4 linked regions of the Homo sapiens genome follow. The main gene of each other region encodes a partner of the protein of the gene in region 2 in a complex. Each region holds a gene or a part of one and is shown on either strand. Other genes may lie near its edges. The genes, in order: RAB3IP, RAB11A, RAB11FIP2 and SH3BP5. A codon is read from its position in the direction of its gene.

Region 1 (7,041 bases), on a different chromosome or scaffold from region 2:
TGCCTCAGCCTCCCAAAGTGCTGGGATTACAGGCGTGAGCCACTATGCCCAGCCCCAAAGTAATCTTGAGCAAGAAAAATAAAGCTGGATGCATCACACTTCCTGATTTCAAAGTACATGACAAAGTTACAGCAGTAAAAACAGTATGGCACTGATATAAAAACAGACATGTGGACCAATAGAAGAGAATAGAGAGCCCAGAAATGACACATTTTTGGTTAGCTGACCCTCAACAAAAATGCTAAGGACACCTAGTGGGGAGTAGATAGTCTTATCAATAAATGCTGCTGAGAAAATTGGATATCCACATGCAAATGAACGAAATTAGACCCTGATCTCACACCATAAAGAAAAATCAATTCAAATGGATTAAAGACTTACACATAAGACCTGAAACTGTAAACTCAGAAGAAACAAGGAAAAAGCTTCTTGACATTGGTCTGGGCAGTGATTTTTTTGGATGTGACACCAAAAGCACAGGCAACAAAAACAAAATGGACAAGTGGGAGTACATCAAACTAAAAAGCTTCTGCCCAGCAAAAAACAGTCAACAAAATGAAGAAGCGGCATACTGAATGGGAAAACATTTGCAAACCGTGTATCTGATAAGGAGTTAATATCCAAAGTATATAAGGCATGCAGTAGCAAAAAACAACCCAATTGAAAGATGGGCTAGGGGCCTAAATAGACATTTCTCCTAAGAAGACATACAAATGGCCAACCGGTATATGATAAGATACCCAGCATCAGTAATCATCAGGTAAATGCCAGTCACTCCCCAATGAGATAGCACCCCACACTGGTTAGAATGGCTATTATCAAAATACAAAAGATAGTAAATGTTGGCAAGGATGTGGAGAAAAGGAACTTGTCCACTATTGGTGGGAATGTAAATTGGTACAGCCATTATGGAAAACAGTATGGAAGTTTCTGCTCAAAAAATTAAAAATAAAGCTACCGCATGATCCAGCAATCCCACTTCCAGATATATATCCAAAAGAAAATTGCTATCCTGATGAGTTATCTGTGCTTCCATGTTCATTGCAGCATTATTCACAGTAGCAAAGTTATGGAAACAAGTTATATGTCTATTGATGAATGGATAAAGAAAATGTGGGGGGTATGTGTGTGTATATGAATACTACTCAGTCTTAAAATGGAAATCCTGCCTTTTGCAACAACATGAGCGAACCTGGAGGACATTTTGCTAAGTGAAATAAGCAAGACAGAAAGACAAATGCTACATTATCTCACTTATATGTGGAATCTAAAATAGTCGAGCTCATAGAAGCACAGAGTAGATTGGTGGTTGTCAGGGGCTGGAAAGTGGGAGAAACGGGAGATGTCGGTCATTGGTACAAAGTGTCAGTTATGCAGGATAGATAAATTCTGAAGACCCAATGTACAGCACGACTATATCGTATGTTACAAATTTGCTAAGAAGGTAGATCTTGTTTGCGCACCACCTCCCCTCCAAAAAAAAGGTAACTGAGAGGTGCTGGATATGCTAAAAGAAAAACAAAATGATATGTATATTTCAGTGTTCATAAATATTTATTAAAACAGCCACACTAATTTGTGTATTGTCTATGGCTGCTTTCATATTGCAACAGCAGAGCTGAGGAGTTGCAGCTGAGGCTGTATATGTATACATAGTGTTTGACTCTTTACAGAAAAAGTTTACCGACTCCTGGTATAGGTGATACTTACATCATTTTCAGCTTTGGAAGGGCAGTGTGATGGAAAATTTTCAAACTTTTTTTGAGTCTACCTTTTGATGTTTTTTGTCAATTTTTAAAAAATTCTGTAAAAATTCTGCATGTCATCTTTTTAGCAACTGATCCTGCCCCAGTCTAGTGCTCATCTTTCCTTTTGGGGCTCCAATTATATGTATGTTATACCTTTTCACTGTAACCCTTATGTCTGTAGTGGAAAAGTCACCTAAAATTTCACATTACTCTAAGTTTACTTCACTATTTTGTTCTCAGATACCTTCAAACATATTTTAAAAACAAACAAAAAACTTTTCTAGCTTTTCTAATCGTTCTCCGTTGGAGGTTTGGTACAAATTGCATAATCCACTATTAATGAAAACAGAGTCCATTTCCAAAAATTTAGTCAACTATTCTCTCCATAGTATGAATTACTTTTTCATTTAAAGTTAAAATGTTACTTATCTTGAAGGGTCAGATTAGCTGTGTTTATTATTTTTAAAACATTGCCAGATAGTTTTGTGTTGACAGCCACTTGTCCCAGAAAAATTCAGCAAATCTGAAACATTTGTTATTTTTAAAAGGAGAATATTTAACTCATTAAATTTGACAGCTCTTAAGGACTTTGCCAAGATAGCCAGAATAATAGTGCATGGAATATCTTCATGGTTAATATCATTTTGCTATAAATCATTGATAGTAAAGATTCTCCTATTTAAACTAGTATAAGCTGCAAATTCACATTCATGGGCACACACAAACTGCAGTGTTACAATACTGTAAAAGCTAATGAACAAACGGGAAACAAACAGTCAAACTCTGATGTAAAGAACTTCCACCTTTCCATTCTACCACTGTGCATTTTGACAGATCTAGTGAGGGTGCCATTGTCAAACTATTCATTAAATATCTTTGAAGCTCATTTCCTTCCTTCCTCTGATAAATTGTAAACTAAAGTTCTAAAATGTAAGTTCTTAAATCTCGGGGCACTATCTCAAGCACCCTATATATGCTTCCAGTCCATTCTTAATCCCTTACAGGGATTATTCTATACAAGGGCATAATCTTTTAAAAATAAAATGATCATGTCTTCCTTAAAAAAACTGTAAGGCTTCATATTGCATTTAGAATAAAACCCACAATTCTTATTCCGATGTTTTATTTGGTTAATACATATAAACAGAATGTAAGCTCCTTAAGAGCAGGGACTTTGTCCTTTCCCAGTACGTAATCAGCATCTGGAGCAGTACCTCACAAGGAGATGACATGAGTAAATGTCTCATGAATAAACATTATATGAATAAAAAGGAATTAAATACCTAGAGTTTCATATTTGTGGTACTAGAAGATTAAAACTCTATTAAAGGGTAAACTGATTTGCCTTTTTAGGTTGCTCTTCACAAAATTGTCACATAATAAAATTTTGGGAATGTTTTTATTGAAAGCTCTAAGGCTTCTTAGCTGTCATTACTATAAACTGCAACATTATTGGTGTGTTAATGTTTTTACTTGTCCCTCCTGTATGTCTTTGCTTTGACTAATAAGAACATATATAGTGACCACATTATAAAAAGCTGACTGCAAAGGAGTTGGCTTTGACACATTGGTCATTGTTTGCCTTCGTCACATTCACAGTCCTTACGCAAGTATCTATCCGGATGATTGATCTCAACTTGGCTGCCTCAGTGGTAATAGGTCCTAAAAGAAGGCACCTATTCCTAATGTCTCATAGTTTGTCTCTGTTGTCAACTGCTGCTTCCATAGTTGACATTGAATACTTAACTTCAGGCTAACTTTTGGTAGTATATCTTTGCTTCAATTGTAAACATTTGGCAAGAACTTTTTGAAAACAAATGCTACTTTGTTTCTAAAATTTGAGATGTTAACTTTTTCAGGAAGCTCATAAAATGGTGAGAGAAGCAAATATCAAGCAGGCAACAGCAGAAAAACAGCTAAAAGAAGCACAAGGAAAAGTGAGTTTTTGCAGCTCTTAATAGTATAAAATAAATTTGTGATAACTGTTTTAAAGATACCTTAACATCTGTTGGATTTTGTTCTGATCGTAAAGTAGTGCTTGTTTTCAATTTGGAAACTACAGAAAAATAGAAGAAAATAGCTACTATGTAGGTATAATTAATAGTAAACATTTCGTGTCCATTTATATGAGAACCAAATGATTTAAAACCTTGTAAATCACATGAATTATCCAAAGGATTATAGAATCACATTTTAATGTTAATACTTAGTTTTTAAATTCACTGAGAAAAGCCACCTAAATGTTATTAGATTTTACTGTTTTAGGAGTGAACTTCTACAACTAATCATAAGCTATTATATTTTGAGGATTTTGAAAATTCACATAAATGTTAGATATTTTGGTAATTTTCACAGGCTCATTTGACGTTGTTAATAATAGATGAATCCAAACCATATGGAAACATCAAAAAACTTGATTTTAGTTTCTTTTTATTACTCCACAGGAAATACAAATTAAACTTACTTTTCATCTTTGAAAGTGTTTTGACCAGATTGCTAATATTTAGCTGCATATGTCATGAAACGTATTTAATGTATGTGACTATGTTGATTTCTTTCCAAGATTGATGTACTTCAAGCTGAAGTAGCTGCATTGAAGACACTTGTATTGTCCAGTTCTCCAACATCACCTACGCAGGAGCCTTTGCCAGGTGGAAAGACACCTTTTAAAAAGGGGCATACAAGAAATAAAAGCACAAGCAGTGCTATGAGTGGCAGTCATCAGGACCTCAGTGTGATACAGCCAATTGTAAAAGACTGCAAAGAGGTAACTCATCAAGGACTGTCCCCTCTGACTCTGTTGATACTTGTTAGTTCTCATCACTGAGGTGTCAGTTATCATTTTTGCCAGCAAAATTTTTAGTACAAAATAATGCAGTATTAAGATGGGGGAGGCTTTATCTAGAGCTGGCTGCTTTCAGGGATTCTTCAGTTCCATTTTCTACCTGGCTGACCTTGGAGTACCTGCTGGAAACTTGGTAAGTTTCTTAATCTCAGTATTTCATTAAGGGAGGAAACTGTCATGTGTTGTCTAGAGGAGAGTGGGTGGCTTTAATGATCTGGCTAGTCAAAATTTATTGCTAGAGTGCGCTTACAAAGTATGGATATAAGAAATATGTGAAAATAAGATGATTTTCTTAAAGATCAATACATTGCTTTTATTTAAATTCAGAGAGAATTTTATGTCAGCAAGGGAGTCCTAGAGTTAATTTAGATAATTAAGCAACAAAAAAATAGAAATAATGGTAGCCTTACAATGACATAAGGCTGGAAGACATTTTGCTAAGTGAAATTTCAAGTTATAGTAGAACAATTAGTGTCATTTTTGATCCCAAATTAGGTTTCACAGTTCAGCCAGTCTGTTATTCAGACACTTACAACTATGTAAGGCCACCATTATCATGTATCCATAACAATTAAAAATTTAAAAACGAAATAATGGGCCGGGCATGGTGGCTCATGCCTGTAATCTCAGCACTTTGGGAGGCCAAGGCCGGAGGATCACCTGAGGTTGGGAGTTCGAGACCAGCCTGACCAACATGGAGAAACCCTATCTGTACTAAAAATATAAAATTAGCTGGGCATGGTATCTCATGCTTATAATCCCAGCTACTCAGGAGGCTGAGGCAGGAGAATCCCTTGAACCTGGGAGGCGGAGGTTGCGGTCAGCTGAGATTGCGCCATCACACTCCAGCCTGGGCAACAAGAGCGAAACTCTGTCTCAAAATCATAATAATAATAATAGTCTTATTTTAAAAGATATGTTACAAAGATAACTGAAATAATATATAAATATTTTGAGCTGTTTAGAGTAAAAATTTTTAATCATTGTATACTGTGAGAATGCATTTCTAAGAGGATTGATCAATAATTTATGAAGCTTTCCCATTTCTTCTTAGAAGCCATCTTTTACATTGTTAAATTCAAGTCCATCATTAATCTTGAAGAAATGTGTGTGCTTGTTAAATTTTTGTATGGAAGCCAGGAGTTTATTAAATGGAATAACCAATGTTAACCTGTTTTAATTGAATTGCATTTTGACGAATTATCAATAAAAATGATGCTGGTAAGAGAGAAGTTCAATACTTGGTTAAATCTGAATGTAACCAAATCCAAAATTCACATTGGTTTCTGTTAAATATTTAAGAAACTTCTTTGTCCTAACTTTAATTCTAATTCTTTGGAATTTAAATAGCAATTTTAATTGCCTGGTACAACTTGTATTTTTGGTGTTTCTTACTCAGTATGTGTAAGTAATTATGTACTTTCCCCCCTATTTACACTAACAAAATTATAAGTGTCTTCTCATGGAACATGGTAAAGATTCATTTTTAGTTTTTGAAATCCCTTAAAATGTGCATAGGCAGCATATAACTTCAAAATAATAACCTTTGCTCTTCAGGTACGTGTTATAGTCTGATGTTTCATGAAAAACTTGTCAAAAAGTCTTACTAGGCAAAGGAATTACATAAATTTGACCTGTGTAAGTCTTAGAAAAATATGTAACAATCTGGAAGAAAATTAAGCATGTCCGTGTTTTTGTAGAAAATATGATGGGGCACTCAGTTATGACATTAGCAACATGTCTTCTGTAAACATTTAAAATACACATGCATGCATGCAGACATACATGCCCAGTGCAAGGCTTTGGGATCAAGCCACTTAGATTTGAATTCGGACTTTACTGCTTTCTTGCTATGCAATCTCCGGCAAATTACAAATGGCAATCATAATATCTGTCTTGCACAGTTGTGAGGATTAAATGCTTGTAAAGTGCTTACGGTGGTTCCTGGCAGAGTCAGCTCTTAATAAATGGTTTAAATTACAGCCTTTAAACTAGAATCTTTCCTTAGAATACCACTTACCTGCTTTGGGGTTTATGTCCTTTTTCTTTTCTTTCTTTTTTTTTTTTTTTTTTTTTTTAATAAATTTGCATCTTTCTTTTTTTTTTAATTATTGTTATACTTTAAGTTTTAGGGTACATGTGCACAATGTGCAGGTTAGTTACAGATGTATACATGTGCCATGCTGGTGCCCTGCACCCACTAACTCGTCATCTAGCATTAGGTATATCTCCCAATGCTATCCCTACCCCATCCCCCCACCCCACAACAGTCCCCAGAGTGTGATGTTCCCCTTCCTGTGTCCATGTGTTCTCCTTGTTCAATTCCCACCTATGAGTGAGAATATATGGTGTTTGGTTTTTTGTTCTTGCGATAGTTTACTGAGAATGATGATTTCCAGTTTCATCCATGTCCCTACAAAGGACATGAACTCATCATTTTTTATGGCT
Region 2 (7,525 bases):
CCCAAATTGCTGGGATTACAGACAGGAGCCACCATGCTGGGCCAAATTTCACTTCATAAGGTTTGTCAACTTTTCTCTCTCAAAAACATTTTTGTTTTTTTTTTGGAGACAGAGTCTTGCTCTGTTGCCCAGGTTGCAGTGTGGTGGTATGATCATGGCTCATTGTAACCTTGAACTCCTCGGCTCAAGTGATCCTCCCACCTCAGCCTCCTGAGTAGCTGGGACTATAGGTACATAGGTGCCATCATGTCTGGCTAATTTCTCCATTTTTTGTAGAGATAGGGGGGGTCTCGCTAGGTTGCCTAGGCTGGTCTTGAACTCCTGGCATCAAGTGATACTCCTACCTTGGCCTCCCAGGCACAAGCCACCATGCCCCATCTAAAAATTGTATTGTGAAATAAACCTAATACTATTACAAAAGTGCATAAAACTGGTATGTAGAGTTTAACACACAGTTATAAAGGGAACAACCCTGTAAAAATCCTTTGAGTTAAGAAATAGAACACTGAGGCCGGGCGCGGTGGCTCACACCTGTAATCTCAGCACTTTGGGAGGCCGAGGTGGGTGGATCACTTGAGGTCAGGAGTTTGAGATCAGCCTGGCCAACATGGTGAAACCCTGTCTCTACAAAAATACAAAAATTAGCCCGGTGTGGTGGTGCATGCCTGTAATGCCAGCTACTCAGAAGGCTGAGGCAGGATAATCACTTGAACCTGGCAGGCAGAGGTTGCAGTGAGCCGAGTTAGTACCACTGCACTCCAGCCTGGGCGATAAAGAGAGACTCCATCTTGAAAAAAATAAGAAAAAAGAAAGAAATAGAAGAGTGATAGGTTTATTTAACAAATGGAAGCCACTATGGAAGCTTTCTGTGTCAGGCCGGTGGCCCCCAGGCTCTGCTTTATGGGATACTGACGGGAGGAACGTCTGTCCCTGGGCATTCTTCCTGAGACCTAGGGAGTGAGTTCGCTTTCTTCAAATGAGCTAGGACAGGGAGGTGAGGATCATGGCACCCTGCCCCTTTCCCATCATAGGCTCTGGCCTCGCATCTGGCTAATTCTTAAAATAATAACTCATGGTTCTCAACTTTGGTAACTATTAACATTTTGGGCCAGATAATTCTTTTTGATGGGAGTGCTATCCTGTGTGTTGTAGAACGTTTAGCAGTATCCCTGGTCTCTACTAGATACCAGTAGCACTCCCAAGTAGTGACACTAAAAATGTCTCCAGATATTATCAAATGTCTCTGGGGACCAAATTGACCCGTTGAAAATCATTGCATTTGGCCAGGTGCAGTGGCTTATTCCTGTAATCTCAGCACTTTTGGAGGCTGAGGTGGGAGGATCGCTTGAGCTCAGGAGTTCAAGAACAGCCTGGGCAAAGATGGCAAAACCCCATCTCTACAAATAATACAAAAATTAGCCAGGTGCGATGGCGCACACCTGTAGTCCCAGCTGCTTGGGAGGTGGAGGTGGAGGTGGGAGAATTGCTTGAGCCCAGCATATGGAGGTTGCCGTGAGCTGACATCGCACTACTGCACTCCAGCCTGGGTGACGCAGCAAGACCCTGACTCAAAAAAAAAGAGAAAAGAAAATCAATGCATTCATAAATATTTATTATATGCCATGCATGATATTAACAGCTATACATTGTTACTTAATTCCTTCTTCCTGTTTGTCCCCATTTTGCAGGTAAGAAACTGGGATTCAGCAGGATTAAATTATTGAAATTGACACAGCTTTAGTGAATGGCTGAGCTGAAGTATAAACACAGACTTATCAGTCCTCACTTTGTTTTTAACAAACATGTAAAGTTACCTCCCCAGATGTGGAGGGTGAGATATATTTCAGGTCTTGCTTCTCCCCCATAGTCTAAGGCTAGGCATTTCTAAATTTATAATTCCAGGCTTTTTACTAGAGAGTTCCTTTTGATTTTCTTACCAACTGTACTAGTCAGGGTTCTCTAGAGGAACAGAACTAATAGGATAGACACATATATAAAGGGCAATTTATTAAGTAGTATTAAGTCACATGATCACAAGGTCCTACAATAGGCCTTCTGCAAGCTGAGAGGCAAGGAAGCCAGTGCGAGTCTCAAAGCTGAAGAACTTGCAGTCCAATGTTCGAGGGCAGGAAACATCCAGCACGGGAGAAAGATGTAGGCTGGGAGGCTAAGCCAGTTTAGCCTTTTCATATTTTTCTGCCTGCTTTATATTCGCTGGCAGCTGATTAGATGGTGCCCACCCGGATTAAGGGTGGGTCTGCCTTTCCCAGCCCATTGACTCAACTGTTTCTGCTTTGGGAACACCCTCACAGACACAACCAGGATCAATACTTTGGATCCTTCAATTCAATCAAGCTGACACTCAGTATTAACCAACACACCATTTTTATTAGTCATGCTTGAGACTAAATTAAACATTAGTGTTCTTTTTTTTTTTTTTGAGGAGTCTTACTCTGTCACCAGGCTGGAGTGCAGTGGCGCAATCTCGGCTCTCTGCAACCTCCATCTCCTTGGTTCAAGCAATTCTCCTGCCTCAGCCTCCTGAGTAGCTGGGATTACAGGACCTTAGATAAACTTACTATCACTTTATAGCAGTAGAGAAAGCACGGAAATTGGCACTGTATTTGTTTTCTATTGCTTCTATAACAAATTACCACAAACTTGGTGACATAAAACAACACAAATTTATTGCTTAAAGTTCTGTAGGTCACAGGTCTGACAAGTGTCTCATTGGGCTAAAATCAAGTTGTCAGCAGGGCTGTGTTCCTTCTGGGGGCCTTATGGAAGAATCTGTTTCCATGCCTTTCCCAGCTTCTAGAAGCCTCCAGATTCCTAGGCTCCTGGGCCCTTTCCTCCATCTTCAAAGCCAGCAAGGGCAGATTGAGGTCTTTTCAAGTCACATCACTCTGACCTCTTCTGCCTCCATTTTCCACTTTTTTTTTTTTTTTTTTGAGAACGAGTCTCTCTCTGTTGCCCAGGCTGGAGTGCAGTGGCGTGGTATCAGCTCACTGCAACCTCCGCTTCCCGGGTTCCAGCAATTCTCATGCCTAAGCCTCCAGAGTAGCTGGGACTACAGGCACCCACCACCACGCCAGACTAATTTTTTGTATTTTAGTAGCGACAGGGTTTCACCTTGTTGGCCAGGCTGGTCTTGAACTCTTGACCTCAGGTGATCCACCCACCTTGGCCTCCCAAAGTGCTGGAATTAAGGCCTGAGCCACCGTGCCCAGCCCATTTTCTACTTTTAAGGACCTTATGACAACACTGGGCCCACCCAACTAATCCAGGATAATATCCCTAATTTAATGTCAGCTGATAAGCAACCTTAATTTCATCTGTAACCTCAATTCCCCTTTGCCATGTAACCTAACCTATTCAGTCTCCAGGAATTGGGAAGTGGACATCATTGGCAGGGGGCATTATTCTGCTTGTTATAGGCATACTTGCCCACAAGTCTAAATCGAGAGTTTGCATATAGGAGGTAGGAGGTGTGACAATAATTGGATAAAGGCTTTTCTGGAATGACAAAATTCTCTTCAAATACAGGGAGGCCCTGCGACATGATATCTGGCAAATCACTTGAGTCTTAGTATCCAAACTTCCGCTAAAATGGAAATTACCATCCTTTGCTTGGCATGTTAAATGAAATACTTATGTAAACGGACTTAGATTAGAGGCCTACAAATAGGACTCAAGTTCTTGATGAATCTTGATGAGGAGGGTGGGCGAAGTACTCTAAATGAAAATGAGATAGATTGCGAGATTTCCGGAGAGGAGTGAGTGACAAGCGCCTACCCGTGCATGAAGCTGGAGGTAGAAAATTCCAGCAAAAGGAATTTTCAAGTTTCACTGAAGCTTTTGAATCAAGGCTTGAAAGCCCAGGGTTAAAAAAAAGGCAGTGAAGAAGCTCATTAAGACAACCCCCCGCCAGGTAGCAGATAGCACCTGAAATGCAGTGGGAAATTTGTGAGGTCTTCATAGGCAAGGATTAAATTTTACATCTCCATCTTAAGATGTGTCATAGTTGTTCAATTACTTAGTGACCAAAAAAGTGAATTAAAGATGTTGTCAAGATTAAAAAAACAAAAACCAATGCAGGTTCCACCGAGATTTGAACTCGGATCGCTGGATTCAGAGTCCAGAGTGCTAACCATTACACCATGGAACCGCCACGCATGTGTAGCTGCCTTCGGCTGTCTAATCCTCAGAGAACCCCGCCCCCATCCACAAACCCACCACTCACAGGCGGTCCCGCCTGGTTCCAGCGAGCCGCTTCCGGCACGGTAGCTCGAGAAATGAGCAAGCGGCCACTAAGACTATGGTAGCTAGGAGTTCCAGGACTCAGTTTCCCCTTTGAGCCTCCTTTAGCGACTAAAGCTTGAAGCCCCACGCATCTCGACTCTCGCGCACACCGCCCTTGTTGGGCTCAGGGGCGGGGCGCCGCCCCCGGAAGTACTTCCCCTTAAAGGCTGGGGCCTGCCGGAAATGGCGCAGCGGCAGGGAGGGGCTCTTCACCCAGTCCGGCAGTTGAAGCTCGGCGCTCGGGTTACCCCTGCAGCGACGCCCCCTGGTCCCACAGATACCACTGCTGCTCCCGCCCTTTCGCTCCTCGGCCGCGCAATGGGCACCCGCGACGACGAGTACGACTACCTCTTTAAAGGTGAGGCCATGGGCTCTCGCACTCTACACAGTCCTCGTTCGGGGACCCGGGCCACTCCCGGTGGACCCTCGTGCCGGCCACCCCTGCACTGATATAGGCCTCCCTCAGCCCTTCCTTTTTGTGCGGTTCCGTCTCCTACCCAGCTCAGCCTCTTCTCCCCCGCTCAGACAGGGGTCCCCATCACATGCCGCTCTCTGAGCGACCTCTCCATAGGCCTTCGCTGGCCTCAGAGCCCCTCCCTGCGTGTCCTTCCCCTGGCGGACTGCCTTCTCCCACATCGTCGAATTCCTTTCCCCGGGTTCTACGGCCCCGCCGCTCCTCCCACCATCTCTCTTTTCGGGTGTAGCGCCCCCTCCCCCTCGGCGTACACCCTTCCCAGCTCGCGTCCTCTCCCGAAGCCCCTCTGACGGGTTCTTCGCTTCCCTCTTGGCCTTGCCTTCGGTGCAGACTCCCATTACAGGTCTTTTTCTTATCTGCCCTCTTTCCCCCCTCGAGCGAGCGTCTCTTCTGTATCTCCCCTCCACTTGGACGGCCGCCCCTCTAAGCTTCTCCCATCCCGGGTCCAGGACCCCGTAAAATCTGAGCGGGCCAAGGGCCTCCGCCCCCACCCTCCGCCCCGCGGTTCTCGCGGTCCTTAACCTTCTCTGACCGCTCCCTCTCCCACTCCCCATTTGGCAACTCTCTCTACCTTCCCTCCCCAAATCGTGTTTAGAGCTCCCTTGTCTCCGTTGCGACCTGGGTGGTGGGAGGGAGGGTAAGAGGGATCGCCCATCACCCACTCGCGCACTTGTCGCAGTGACCCGGCAGGCTGACATTACTTCCCACCTAGCCTTTTCTTTTCTTGCCCTCCCTACTCAGTGGCACCCAACCCGGGATAACTCTTTACTCGGTTCGCGAGATGAGGTTGCGGATGGGTGGTGGCTGTTATCCTTGCCAGACCTGAAGGCCTGGTTCCTGAGCAGGAAAGGTTGTGCGCTGCACAAATACTAGCTTGCTTTATCTCTATGAACTGGTTGCTTCCTGCTGCAACGCTGGGAGGATCCAACAGGAAGGGAAGAGCCCTAGTTAGCCACATACCTTTCCCAAAAGGTTGGGGGTGGGAGGAAGTTGTGTGCTCTTTTGGTTACATTAAATATTTATTATAAGATACGGAAACATGTAGTGCCCTTGGACAGAACATATTGGAGGGTCAGGGTTGGTTAGAAAGAATTGCTTATTGGTTGAGTCCGGAAGGAATCCGGTTTTTTTTTTTAATCAACGAAGATAAAGGGTACATTTTTCAATGAGAAGAGAGTACAGTAGATGCTTTTTTTGTTCAGTGAATGCACTCTCACTCTGATGCTCTTTCTCTGCTCCTGAATTGGGAAGGTAGCCATCAGTAGTGTGCCGAACAAAGATCATTACCACTGAGGAAGAAGCCATTGCTATTAAAGCTTTACTGTGGAGGGTGGAGTTTCAAGAGTGTTAAGCATGGTGACTGTTTCTGTCTTTGCCATTGGGTGCTAAGAATGATTGACTAAACCAAGCAGGAAAGATTTCTTTGCTTTCCCAATACTTTGCAAATCTTGTTATACTAACTAGTCTGCTGTTATACTCTTATCATCTCTTACTCCTCTGACTCAGAATATTCTACTGTATAGGGTGAATACTTTTGGTATCCACCCTCCCCCTCCATACTGGAAAGTACTTTCAGGGTACTTAGTTCATTTTACAAATACAAAACTGAGGCCTGGATTACAAAAAGTATATGACAGCATACCTTTTGCCGAAGGTATCTGAGATGATGTGAAACTATTTGAATCTCTTGAGACTTTGGGGTTAAAGGTTAGGTTTGTGTTTTGAAATATGGTATAATGGTAGTGTGCTTTTATAAAGGTTGTCTTTGAAGTAATTAATTCAGAACAAGATAGACCGTCAGGGTATTTCTCCTGTTTGGTTTGAACTTGAATGTTGGTTATACAAGGTCCTTTTATTTTTTAACAAAGAATATTAAATATTCTGAATTGGCCTAAAGTATTTTAACTTTTTGATTAGACCATCCTTCTAGCAACAATTGAGAGCACTGAGCTTTGGAATCACGTAGACCTCGGTTTAGATCCTGACTCAGGTCTTATATTTACTTTATGACCTTGGAAAAGTTAACTTTTCTGAGTCTCAGTTCTCTACTTTATAAAAAGGAAAATACCTGCCTCTTAAGATTGTGAGAATTAAATAATGAGACTGTTCGTAAAATTTTAACCATGAGGACTCAATAAATGGTAATAATGTGAAAGAAGTTACTGTGGTTTTGTCAGTTTTTTTTTTTTTTTTTTTTTTTTTTTTTGGAGACAGGGTCTCGCTCTGTCCCCCAGGCTGGAGTGCAGTGGCACAATCAAGGCTCACTGCAGTCTCGGCCTCCTCAGGCTCAGGTGACCCCCCGACCTCAGCCTCCCTAGCTACTCTCTAGCTCCTAGGAGTAGCTGAGACTACAGGAGCGCGCCACCACGCCCGGCTAGTTTTTTGTTTTTTTGTAAAGACAGGGTTTTGCCATGTTGCCCAGGCTGGTCTCGCACTCCTGGACTTAAGCAATCCACCTTCCTCAGCCTCCCCAAGTGCTGGGATTATAGGCGTGAGCCACTGTGCCTGGCCTTTGTCAGTTTTTTGAACCTTAAATGTAGGTTCAACTACAAGAGCATTTAAATATTATTAAAGAAAATAAAACTAGGAACTTCGAATGCATTTTATGTTTCCATGGGTTATGGTTTCATTTTGTTGTGCATTTTGCTGTTTAAGATAGGGTGTTAAAAATTCTGCTAAGGAGGATTTCTACTTTTTTTTTTTTTTTTTGAGATGGTATTTCGCTCTTGTTTCCCAGGTTGGAGTGCA
Region 3 (4,567 bases), on a different chromosome or scaffold from region 2:
GGGGACTGGAAGTGGTGACTGATTAATGACTTCTGGTAGATGCTGGAGGATAAGAAGTGGTGAAAAATGCTACCGGCTGTACCAACCCTATTCTACTTTCTTCAGTACCACAAAAGGTTTTCTTACATTTCCTCTGAAAGCTTGTGCATTCCCTACCTTACAGGGTTGTTGTGAGAAATAAAATAAAGCATAAATAGGAAGTACTCAGCAGAGACCTTAGCCTATATATAAATACTCAAATATCATTTCTACTAAATCGTAAGCTCCATCCCTATGAGGGGATGTCTTATATGTAGAGGGCATCCACACATTTGTTGAAGAATGTTCACTTGTACTTAAAAACTACTCTTTTGAATGACTTTTCAGAACTATCTTCATAGTAAAATAAGTTTGTAGGTCTTACAGAATATGTGCTACAATACACCAAATAAGAGGCATCCTAGGTATTTATTAAAAAACAAGGAGGACTCATATATAAATCCATTATGGTAACACCGCTGTATCTGTAATAAATGTTGACAACTGAATTAAGTTTAAACACTTTAATCAACTATAAGTCAATAATCATATATTATATAAAAATTCTGATTCATGCATCAGATTACATAAATTATACAATTGTCACATTATACAATGCTTACATACTTTTGAATTTGTACCTGCAAAAATGTATACAAGTTATGAGAGCATTTACTTAAGAAGATAAGTGTTATACTCTTCAGTTATAAATAATGCTTCTATCTTTCAAATACCCGCTAAATATATGCATTTCTAGATCTGCAGCATTTTTTTGTACCTCAAAACACAAACCATCTGGAAGCTTCGAAGACTAACAGGCCCACATGTATCATGTATTAGACTTCAACTCCACTGTGAGAGTGCATTTTTTGATGGATAAAACAAATGGAATGAAACATCAACTCTATTTTAATGCTTGAAGAGCTTCTATACCTCTTATTAAATATATCAGAAAATGCTTCATATGCAGATTAATTAGCTAAGGTGCTACCAATTGCATATTAAATACTTCCAATGATTGCATCTGGATTATTAAAGTTCTACATCTGTGCAAATGGGGGCTTTCCATGTGTGCTGACAGACCCTTCTACATACCATCATGGCCCAGCAGCACTGTGATCCTTTCCCTTATTTCAAAGGGACCAAGTGAATGAGCATGCATCATACTTCACTTACACATACACACAAGTGACACCTACCACCTACAAGACATATGAGTACATGAACATCAAAAAAGTTTCAGCTTGATTTACAAATCCAAGGTAAATTGCTTCTTCTGAAAAGCTACAGAGGAAAATAAAAGCTCTAGTGTAACATTTACTGTAGATATATTAGACAACAGTTTTTTGTTTTTTTTTTTAGATTCTCTTTGTTAAAGAATAAGCACCCTTCCGGGGATGGTAGGCAGGGAGGCGTGGTGGTGAGGGAGTTGCTGGAGGAATAACAAGAAGAAAACAAGTCTGTCACTAATGAGCTTAGTTTTACTTAGGTTTCCATTCATGAAACCCTTTTAAATACAAGGCAACATTTTCACAGCTGGAAAATTACAACTAAATCTTGATTTACCACCAAAAGCAATAGATGTAGTTATGTATAATCTATAGATAATACTACATTCAGGGGACAATGGCAAAACTAGGCTCAATGCAGAACATAGCAGCAAAAAGCAATACTTAAAAACGTTTTTCATGAATGGGTTACATGTTGTTTTATATACAATTCTAAGATATGACCCTGGTATTCAATAAATGAAACTTGAAGCGTAAGTGGTAGGAAGGTATGTTCAATATTTTTAAAGCTGAATTTTAGAATTGGTTATAAAATAATACTGCTTTAAAAATAATAGCAGAAATAGTTTAATTATGTAACAGAAGTACATTAGCTTAAGATAGTCTTGAGATAAATATCAATTCTGTGATTTTAAAAAATCCTCTTGTTGGTAGTAGTGTTTTGGGCATGCATTCTTTAAAGCATAAAAGCAAAAATAAACTCTATAATCTAGTGTACTGTGCATTATTTAATAAGCACATATATTTTATTTCCATTTCTAAGCAACTAACAAAATACATTAGAATACCTAAAGTTATGTTTTGGAAAAATAAACTAAGGTGACCTTTTTGGCCTCTTTTTCTACAACGTGAGAAATTAAAACTACTTTGCACTTCTGCCCAAACACAGGAAACACTGATATATTTACTTGGGAACTAATTTTTACTTTTTGTTTTTAGTTTTATTATTTTGACTGATTATGAAAATATGCAATAAGTTTACTCTAGGTAATGAGTGAAAATTCACAAACATTAGAACAGCAAATTTTCAGGCAGTGATGAATGTATTAATAGATCTAGTTTTAAATATAATACTTGTCTCAGATTTAAAGATAAAAATTTTGATTGAGTTATAACCAAATCACTCATGTATGAATAAAGCTAAGCCTCAATAGCTTTTATATAGGAAAAGAATCGCTCCTTAAAAATCAATTTCCCCATAAAAAGAAGAGCAGTACTTGAACCATACTTTTAAATGAGTTCTATTTATGTAAAACATATCCCCAATACAAAACTGACATCTTGGTTCACTCTATAAACAGCAAATTTGGCCAAAGCATATTATTATAGTATCTGCAGATACTGTCATAATACTGAAAACATAGATTTTCACATTTTAAGAAGTGTATGAAAAGACTCAATAATACTACCAGACAAAAACAAATGCTGAGAATTTTGTAACATTTAGTTAATTAAAAGTGGCACCATGTTTAAAAAAAAAAAAAAAACTACCAAGACCTCAAACGGGAAAATACCATTCTACACCAGACTTTGAGGTTTATTACAGAATCTTGAGGAGAAAAAAATTGATAAAAGCTATTTTTCCTTCTCCATTTCTTAAAGCATTTAATTTTTATGAAAAAAATGTTCATAATTTCAAAATGTATGTTCTTACAGTAAAACTGAAATGCAGAAGATACAAATAACAAGGGGTTTTAGTTTACAAATACGAGCTTGGCCAAGTATTCTCTGATTCAAAATACTAAAATAAGCAAAAAAAAAAAACCCAAACTATTATATCGGCTTTTTGTTTAACTTTCAATGGAGTCTTAACAGAGATAAGTATTAGAAAAAAATGCAATTCATGGAAAGATTGGGGAATATGTAAGTCTCCATATGGACATGAATTTTCATTTTAAATTCAGAAAGACATAGATACTCTCAGTGTTTTATAGTATTTCAGACTTTAAAGGCTGAAAAATAAGCAGAAGATTAGCAATATTTTTATAACATTGCTTGTCAATTTAAATTTCAGAAAAAATTTGTACAAATCATATAAAAATAATCCATGGAAGAAATCAGTATTTTGGGGGAGTGGACTTTAAAATAGAACATAATTTTGTAATAAATCAATTCTTAAAGGGTGGATGTGGAGTAATGCATAATGTCACGCTCGTAAAGTTCTCTTCTAAAAACTCACTCTTCCTTTAGTAAGTCTTATTTTGGTTCAAGACCCAAAGGCAACCATCTGCTCTATTATTTATGTAACCTGAAACCAAGCCTAATTCTTCATTCCTGGAATCTGCCCGCTGCTTTGGGTTATCAGACACACCAGGCAATCACATACTTCCCACAATTATTTTCAGATATAACTTTATAATATTTGCTTTGCTAGTGATTTAAAGGCATGCAGAATTTCAACAAAACAAGCTATATTAGCTTATCTTCTGCTTATACCTTAAACAAACTCAAATGTTAATTAATTCAAATAAATTCATGCTGTTATGAAGTTAATGAAGTCTCCTAAAATTTGTCATTCTTTAAAAAAGGACTTGAGATCATCACTTTTGGGGAAAGAGAAAAACTTTGATGCTAGAATAATATATAGCAGCTCACTTTGAAACCAAGGTCCATGTAGTCAAGAGTGATTTGAAGCAGCTTCTCTATAACAAACCATGACAGTAGGAAGGATGACTTGTCTTGCATCAATAGAGCACACACATTTTCAAATCAAGAAATTGGTAGCCTAACTTTAGAGGCAATCAATTGTTTCTAAATGTTCTAAAAACACATGTATATATGAGGTATATGCCTATATTTTATATACAAGATACATGAATATATATATATTCATGTACATATGTGTATATAAAATATAAACTGTTTTTTTAGTAGTGTTTATAACGAGCAGTATTCCTGAAGCTAAATATTTCTACAAACTGATTTCTGAGAAACCAGCCACAGGATCAATTCTGCTTTATGAAAAATCTATTCCTGAGGAACAACTCACGTACTTCTGAAGATATTTCTGGGCCTATGGCAGATTAGTGGGTCAGTACCAGCACCTGAGTGAGTCCTAAGGAACCACTTATTCATTGAGAATCTGGCCCATTTTCAATTTAAACATTTAAATGATTTAGCTTGCTTCAAAGGTCACTCTTGATAGTCCCTGCTAATATTTACAGGTAAAACTACTCTTCACAATAAAGGAGAATATGTAATGAAACCTGATAGTGTAGTCTCTTTCAGTAACAAGTTTTTCCTTCCTTCCTTCTTTCTTT
Region 4 (7,041 bases), on a different chromosome or scaffold from region 2:
GCTGGGGAGCTTGGGCAGCATAGGACCCCTTCAGCCTCAGCTGTTTTGGCACTGAAGTAGCCTTTATGGGAAGGTGATAGCTTTTCATCCTCTGAGAGAGGAGGGCTGGCATCCTGGGAGGGAGAAATTGGCTTTTCTGATGTCTGCTGAAAGAGCTCAGACAGAGGAAGAGGGAAATGTGACTTGGAAATGAGAGGCACGAACTGTTTCTGAACTAGCCCCAGGTGGCTGCTGGAGAGGACACGACGCAGGGCCAGCCCTTCTCCTGGTTCACAGTGGATATGAGCCTGGGATGGCAGGTGAGGAGCTGCTCACGACAGCCTCCCTGACGTTGGTGGGTGTGAACCGCCTCCCTTCCACACAGTGGGAAGAAGCGCCTTCTTAGGTCTCATTGCCCAAGGACGCAGTAAGAATCAGGAAACAGTCTGAAACAGTCAGAATGGAGGTTCTCAGCAGACAGTGAGATTGCCTCCCTGGGCAAAGAGGCTCCTGACCGCCCCTCTGTGATGTTGGAAGAGATGTTGGGAGTGTAACTGAGGGTGCAAAGGCCCTGGAGATTGGAGAGTCGAGAAAGCTGTAACAGGAGGCTGAGGAGCTGTGCCTGGTGGATGTCTACTAAGCCGGTTGGGCCATTCTGCTGGTGTGGGACCCCGCGAAGAGGCTGGCCAAGCCAGATTGAAACACCCAATCAGTGCCCAGTGGTGCCCATGCGGGAAGGTGCCGGGTGTTTGCTATTTTCTGTGGGCTGATATGAGCAGGGTCCGGGGCTGAGCAGTATCTCTGTGGTCCCTGGATCTTCAGCATCTCCGGAGTATGCTGCTCCGGAGTATGGGGTGCAGTTTGCCACACCTACCCCTGAGCCGCTCTCCTCCTTACTTATCCCACCACACCTGACCCACATCACTGCACACAGCTCATGCCTGATGCTAGGCTGTAGATAGAGGAGCTCCTTGATTACCTAGGAGACATAACCAAGGCGACATGCTTAGTGACCTTCTTCCTCAAGGCAGGAAGCTGAGTTGTGTGGAGGTCTCTTCCAGGAGCTGGAGGGTTGTGTGTGTGTGTGTGTGTGTGTGTGTGTGTGTGTGTGTGTGTGTGTGACGGAGTCTCGCCCTGTAGCTCAGGCTGGAGTGCAGCGGCGCGATCTTGGCTCATTGCAACCTCCACCTCCCAGGTTCAAGCTTTTCTCCTGCCTCAGCCTCCTGAGGAGCTGGGACTACAGGCACCAACCACCACACCCAGCTAATTTTTGTATTTTTAGTAGAGACGTGGTTTCACCATGTTGGCCAGGTTGGTCTTGAACTCCTGACCTCAAGTGATCTGCCCGCCTTGGCCTCCCAAAGTGCTGGGATTACAGGCATGAGCCCCATCGCACCTGGCTGCCCTGGAGGTTTTGTATATATATGAGAAGTGGGGAGATAGGGACAGGATGTGGTAGACGTGGCCTGGTGGGGCGAAGCAGGGGACAGTGATGTGCTGGCCACTTCTTCAGTTTTCACTGCCAGTATTGCCATGGGCTCGGAGCTTTCCAAGTGTTTTATTGTAGAAAGCCTGTGCTTCTGCTTGCAGCCTAGAGGCCAAGATAGAATGAGGGCCTGTGTGCAGATGGTGAGAATCCTGCTTCTTACAGGGGACTCTTTCTGTACAGGACCCTCAAATTACAGGTTCTACAAGTCTGTTGAAAATGCATTCTGACAGCTCCTTAAAGGTAAACCTTTAATTGGATCTTTTTGTAATAAAACAATCACCCCCAACATGTTGTCTTTGATGAACCTGAAGGTTTGAGTTTTCATAAAGGTTATACCAGTAAATCCTTAAAGCTTAAGATTTACTGCTGTTTCCCCAAGTATCAAGCATGAGATATTTTTAGTGCATTTTGTTTCCTTGTGAAATATCTGGTTTTGGAAGCAAAGGGAAAGGATTCTCTTAGCCCTTTGGTCTTGGTTGAGAAGTCATGTGAGCAAGCATGTCTCCTCGTGCCAGCTTAGCTCAGTTCTCTCCTATTTTTCTTCTCTGATTTTGTTGTTTTTCTGTTTTTAAAAATTATCTGAAGCACTGAAGCCTTTGTTAAAAGATATTTTTAAGAAGGTAAAAGCATAATTGGGATACAAATATAAAATTTTCTCGTGTCAAATATTTTATTTCTCTCATTAAATAAGGAGGGATCTAACAGTGATGTTACAATTCTTGAATTCAAAAAATACAAACTCATAGAAAACCAAGAGTGCCTCAATGAATTACCAACAGATGCAAAATGGACTATTACAAGGGCAGTCAGTAATCCACTGCATCTGTGACACAGTTCATCTTCATTTCTCTGGAAAAAAAAAAAAACCATTTGTATTACTGTCAGTTTTCTACAACTTACAGGGTTGTAAAACAGCTTCAAGACAAAGTCAGAGATAGCCTGGAAGGGTGCCCTAGACAGGACACCCTGTAATTTTTAATGCCCATATAAAAGTCTTTCATAATTTTTCATGGTACCTTTAAAAATCCTTATCGTAAGTAATAAGTAAACTATCCTAGGGCTGATTGTGGCTGTTGACTGGAGGAGATGGTAGAACATTGGCAACCTTCCTCTGTGGCCTTCTTTTTTAACTGTGAACTAAAGACATGGTGGTACCTCCCTAAAATTGTTCTACGGGGTCTGAGAGAGCTGACTAGTGACCATGAGCCCTCTGGGCTCCTCTCGGATGCTCCCCAGAGAATACAGAATTAGAGAATAACCCTTTAGCCTAACCTCTACTGTCTCTCCGGTTTATTTTATAACACTGAGTGGTAGGCAGAAGACAGGGAAAGAAATCGCAAGCTGCTTATGTGGCCTGAACTGCGGTTTGTTTCCCTCCTCTTTCTTCAAGGCAGGCCTTGTTCTGATGCTTTTCTGTAGGTAAGCAAGGAGAGAATTAACATTGCCCATGTCTCTGGGACTGGGCCTGTGAGCTGCTTTTGTTTTTTGGCCATTGAGGGCCCTTGAGTATTGGTTTTGTAACTCATTTTTTTCAACAGACTTAACAAAGTGTTCCCACCAGAATTTCCCACCAGAACTTTGACTTGTCTTCTGCTCACAAATGTTTGTGTACCTCAAAATCTGATGTGAATGACTGGGTTTTAATTTAATTGCTTAAATGTAAAGTTTGCCCTTTCTGGATCCTGAGTTCTTCTGTGCACAGCCAACTAGTTCAGAATATTTGGGAAAGGACCAAACAATGGAAGTCATGGCTGCTTTGCTGGCTTGACTGCCATCGTGCCTGGCACGATGCCTAGTTCTTGGTTTTGGTGGTCTCCCCATTAGGTTCCCCATCTCTTAGGTTCCCACTGCTGCTATTTGGCCATTTGCCTGCCCATCAGGCCCCTGCCCCAAGGTGTGAACGGGAGGAGGTCTAGGTGGCTACTTAGATCGAGGAACCTGAGAAGAAAGTGGACAGCTGTTGAATCAGAAAATAGTTCAAAATTTTCTGGTTTTTGTTTTTCCATTTTCTTTCTCAGTCATTGCCACAGCCAATTTAGCTATTTAATCTTTCCTCACAAGGCTTTTTCAAAATAGATAAATAGGAAAAGAAAACCACTGTTGGGAAGTTGGTTTATTCTTAGTCTGACCACTAATTTGCTCAAATATATATCTAGATATAGATATCTATATATACATATATATTTTGAGATGGAGTCTTGCTGTGCTGCCCAGGATGGAGTGCAGTGGCGTGATCTCGGCTTACTGCAACCTTCATCTCCTGGGTTCAGGTGATTCTCCTGCCTCAGCCTTTCAAGTAGCTGGGACTACAGGCATGTGCCACCATGCCTGGCAAATGTTTATATTTTTAGTAGAGACGGGGTTTTGCCATGTTGGCCAGGCTGGTCTCAAACTCCTGACCTTAGGCGATCCACCCACCTCAGCCTCCCAAAGGACTGTGATTACAGGTGTGAGCCACCGTGCCTGGCCCAAAGAGTATTTTTATTTTTGAGACAGAGTCTCACTCTGTCGCCCAGGCTGGAGTGCAGTGGCACGATCTTGGCTCACTGCAACCTCTGCCTCCGGGTTCAAGTGATTCTCCTGCCTTAGCCTCCTGAGTAGCTGGGACTACAGGAGCACACCACCAGGCCCGGCTGATTTTTGTATTTTTAGCAGTGACGGGTTTCACCATGTTGGCTAGGATGGTCCCGATCTCCTGACCTCGTGATCCACCCACCTTGGCCTCCCAAAGTGCTGGGATTACACATGTGTCACCATGCCCGGGCAAAGAATATTTTTTGAAAAATAATATAAGTAATATTCCAAGCCTGGGCTGTTCTGGGCTGGACTGGGCTGAACTCTGCTGTCATTTTAAGGTCATGGAGGCGGAGCAGACCAAGACCAGGAGCGAGCTGGTGCATAAGGAGACGGCAGCCAGGTACAATGCCGCCATGGGCCGCATGCGACAGCTGGAGAAGAAACTCAAGAGAGCCATCAACAAGTCCAAGTAAGTCTGGACAGGGCCTTCCCTGGGGCCGTGCGGCTGTCCTAGTCTGCATCTTCTCAGCCTTTTGTATGTCACACACTCAAGGACCACCCTGAGTAGTCCTTTGATGTAGACCCTGGGGCCTCACCAGAGCCCCCCTGCTCAGGCTCTCTTTCCCCCTAATATTCTATGACCCCCAGAAGCAGAGGATGCTAAGGGGTGGGCTGCTCTAGATATGACTAAGTTAGGAAACACAGAAAAAGGAATTTCAAAGGCACATTATTAAATGGCCCATTGGCTGGGATTTGGTAAATTCACGCTGTACTCTGGGATCTGTGGTTGACAGTGTTGTCAAGGCCCTATCCCTCAATTTATCTGTCAGTGTAATAGGGATGAGTTGTGTTCACAATACATGTTTCCTGTGATCAAGAGCTGATAAAATGCTGTAAGACTGGCTTTAGTAGAGTTTTTTTTTTTTTCTCCAATCTCTTCTCACTACAGCCCTGTATATTTTTATACAACATTGATAATGGTGGGCAGGCACAACTGTGTACCCTCTCTTGGGGACAAGCCCCCTGCTTCATTCCCAATTGCTAGGCCTCCTAGCAAAAGGAGGAGGACTTATGATGACCTAGACTTAACAGCCAAAGATAGACCCAGAGCAGGCTGTGCAGGGCTACTGAATGCCTGTTCTCCAGGTGTGGTCACAGCCCCAGCCAGGAGGGGCTGGGCAGTTGGAAGCTTGGCAGATGCCCAGTCCTCATGCAAGTGAGGGAAAGGTGACAATTCAGTGAGGAAGAGGATCTGCAAGGAAGAGTTTGGTCCTCCTAGGCTCTGTACTACCCCCCAGTACCTTCACCCAGGCTTGACTTTTCTTTAGTTTCTGCTCACACTCTTCCAACATACATATGTACACATACATGCAGAGGAACACCATTTAACCATTTACTATTGCACTTAATTGACTAGTGTATTTTTGTTTTGGTTTGGTTTTTGGTGTGTCAGGGGCTGATCTCCTGAGAGCTAAGTAGTAGACGTGTATATGGCATTTTTCTGCAGGGGAGGCAGGAGGTGGCGAGGGTTGTTGTAGGACCTGTGCCTGCTCTGGGCAAGCCCAGGCATCATCCACATGCCAACACCCAAGGAGGCCGAGGAGCAGCCTTTGATGCTGCTTCCTTTGGTGTGAATATGGTGGGTCTTTTCTCAAAAGACCCCGAATTCACACTGCACACACATCACATACTCATCCATTAACCTGTTTAAGAAAATAAATCTTGTGATTGTACTTTGCCAACCTTTTCAGACTCCGAGAAGAGTACAGGGATAGATCGTAGTCTTGGGTGGCTCCTGTCTGCCCAAAGGTTAAAATGTACATCTGTGCATTCCACAGAGTGGCTTCCAGGCCACCTCCATGCCCACCCTGCCTCTCCAGCCACACTCCCTTGCATGGATGCTCATGTTCCTTTTGCTGGGACATCTTCCCTGTGCCCTCCGATGCCCATTCACACACATACTCTTCACCTTGTGCTCCTTTTGGTCACACGAGAGAGCTTATACACCTCTCTCTCCCCCCAAATTTCAGGATTTTCATACCCACCAATGGCAGTCCTGTGTCCTTGTCATCCATCTGGATCCTCAGGATGCAGGACTTGAGAGCTTCATGGAGGGTGAACAGCTCAAGAATAAAGCAGTGATCTACTCTTAATGTTCAGGCACCAAAGTTCCTAAAAAAGAGCCAAGCTCTTTCAGCTGACCCAGAACCAAGGGAACTGCTAGGACGCTGGCATTTCTTGGGCCCATTATGTGGCTGAGTCAGCCAACTAATAACTCCAGTCTTTGGACAAGGTTTGGGAGGACCAACCTGAGACCCCCTCCTAGTGGTGGCCTTGCTGTGCTGTGAGGGAGGAGTGGTGCTTCTCTCTCTTCCCCAGTTGACTTCAGTAGAGGAGGAGGTTTAAGCAGCCCCTTCTCCAGCCTCAGCTGCTCTTCATCCCTGGGGAGCCAACTTCATTAGGAGAGCAGATCCAGGCCACCCTTACTGCTGGGTATAACCTGTGAGGCTCTGAACAGCCTTCCCACAGAGGAGGAACATGAGCTAAGTTGCAGAGTCCCCAAGATATGTGTGTGTGGGTTCCCCGTGTCTTGAGATGGGCCTCCTGTTAATATAGCCCTGGGTGAGCCCAGTCGTTCCATCTGGTGTCTGTCAGTCTCCAGAGCTAGGAGCATCACTGACATGTCACGGCCTTGTTAAGAGTTTACTAAATATTGGAAGGACGACCTGGCCAGTGGTAGCTGATGCCTCTTGTTCATCTTGTGGAGTTGACTGTGGTCACTGTATTATATTACTCTGATGGCTTTCCTTCCTGTCTTCTGCAGGCCTTATTTTGAACTCAAGGCAAAGTACTATGTGCAGCTCGAGGTATGTGTAGCTTTGGGCTTCGTCACTGATGAGATTTTTCTGCACTCAAAGCTTCACTTTTCTGGGGTAGCAGAGTATCACATGGGCCACTTGCTATAAGGGGAAAGTGGAGAGACAGGCTTTACTGAGTTTTCAGACCTCAAAATTGTCTCGGTTGGGTCTTCAGTGGTCTCTGAACCTCTGTAACTG

The links.
Region 1: the proteins of RAB11A (region 2) and RAB3IP are in contact, whole or in part, in a crystal structure (PDB 4UJ5), measured with the Homo sapiens proteins. Residues at the interface, in NP_004654.1 of Homo sapiens: Phe36, Leu38, Glu39, Asp127, Leu128, Arg129, His130, Leu131, Arg132, Ala133, Pro135, Thr136, Leu156; in NP_783322.1 of Homo sapiens: Asn367, Thr368, Leu369, Ser370, Ile371, Glu372, Pro373, Asp412, Arg424, Thr428, Cys431, Asn432, Thr435, Tyr439, Leu444, Val445, Lys446, Gln447, Gln448.
Region 3: the proteins of RAB11A (region 2) and RAB11FIP2 are in contact, whole or in part, in a crystal structure (PDB 2GZD), measured with the Homo sapiens proteins. Residues at the interface, in NP_004654.1 of Homo sapiens: Arg33, Ile44, Gly45, Val46, Glu47, Phe48, Ala49, Thr50, Lys61, Trp65, Arg72, Arg74, Ala75, Ile76, Ala79, Tyr80, Arg82; in NP_055719.1 of Homo sapiens: Glu478, Ile481, Asp482, Asn483, Leu485, Val486, Met489, Glu490, Pro493, Ser494, Leu496, Arg497, Val498.
Region 4: the proteins of RAB11A (region 2) and SH3BP5 are in contact, whole or in part, in a crystal structure (PDB 6IXV), measured with the Homo sapiens proteins. Residues at the interface, in NP_004654.1 of Homo sapiens: Tyr8 (codon at 4,642), Asp9 (codon at 4,645), Tyr10 (codon at 4,648), Leu11 (codon at 4,651), Lys13 (codon at 4,657), Glu35, Phe36, Asn37, Leu38, Glu39, Ser40, Ser42, Thr43, Ile44, Phe48, Lys58, Gln63, Trp65, Tyr73, Ile76, Ala79, Arg82, Gly83; in NP_004835.2 of Homo sapiens: Asp42, Ile45, Gln46, Leu49, Glu50, Asn53, Thr56, Ile59, Asn60, Glu63, Thr64, Glu67, Lys240, Tyr243, Leu247, Leu250, Glu251, Ile253, Ser254, Asp255, Ile257, His258, Arg261.

The regions. Positions count from the first base shown.
Region 1 is NC_000012.12:69,790,830-69,797,870, forward strand, and holds part of RAB3IP (rab-3A-interacting protein isoform alpha 1), read left to right. Parts: intron 1-3,607; coding exon 3,608-3,685; intron 3,686-4,311; coding exon 4,312-4,515; intron 4,516-5,647; coding exon of another isoform or gene 5,648-5,773; exon of another isoform or gene 5,774-5,814; intron 5,815-7,041. UniProt on the Homo sapiens protein: Guanine nucleotide exchange factor (GEF) which may activate RAB8A and RAB8B. Promotes the exchange of GDP to GTP, converting inactive GDP-bound Rab proteins into their active GTP-bound form.
Region 2 is NC_000015.10:65,864,966-65,872,490, forward strand, and holds the start of RAB11A (ras-related protein Rab-11A), read left to right. Parts: upstream 1-4,525; 5' UTR 4,526-4,620; coding exon 4,621-4,660; intron 4,661-7,525. UniProt on the Homo sapiens protein: The small GTPases Rab are key regulators of intracellular membrane trafficking, from the formation of transport vesicles to their fusion with membranes.
Region 3 is NC_000010.11:118,004,389-118,008,955, forward strand, and holds the end of RAB11FIP2 (rab11 family-interacting protein 2), read right to left. Parts: 3' UTR 528-4,567; downstream 1-527. UniProt on the Homo sapiens protein: A Rab11 effector binding preferentially phosphatidylinositol 3,4,5-trisphosphate (PtdInsP3) and phosphatidic acid (PA) and acting in the regulation of the transport of vesicles from the endosomal recycling compartment (ERC) to the plasma membrane.
Region 4 is NC_000003.12:15,259,572-15,266,612, reverse strand, and holds part of SH3BP5 (SH3 domain-binding protein 5), read left to right. Parts: intron 1-2,114; exon of another isoform or gene 2,115-2,317; intron 2,318-4,323; coding exon 4,324-4,454; intron 4,455-6,030; exon of another isoform or gene 6,031-6,809; coding exon 6,810-6,852; exon of another isoform or gene 6,853-7,041. UniProt on the Homo sapiens protein: Functions as a guanine nucleotide exchange factor (GEF) with specificity for RAB11A and RAB25. Inhibits the auto- and transphosphorylation activity of BTK. Plays a negative regulatory role in BTK-related cytoplasmic signaling in B-cells.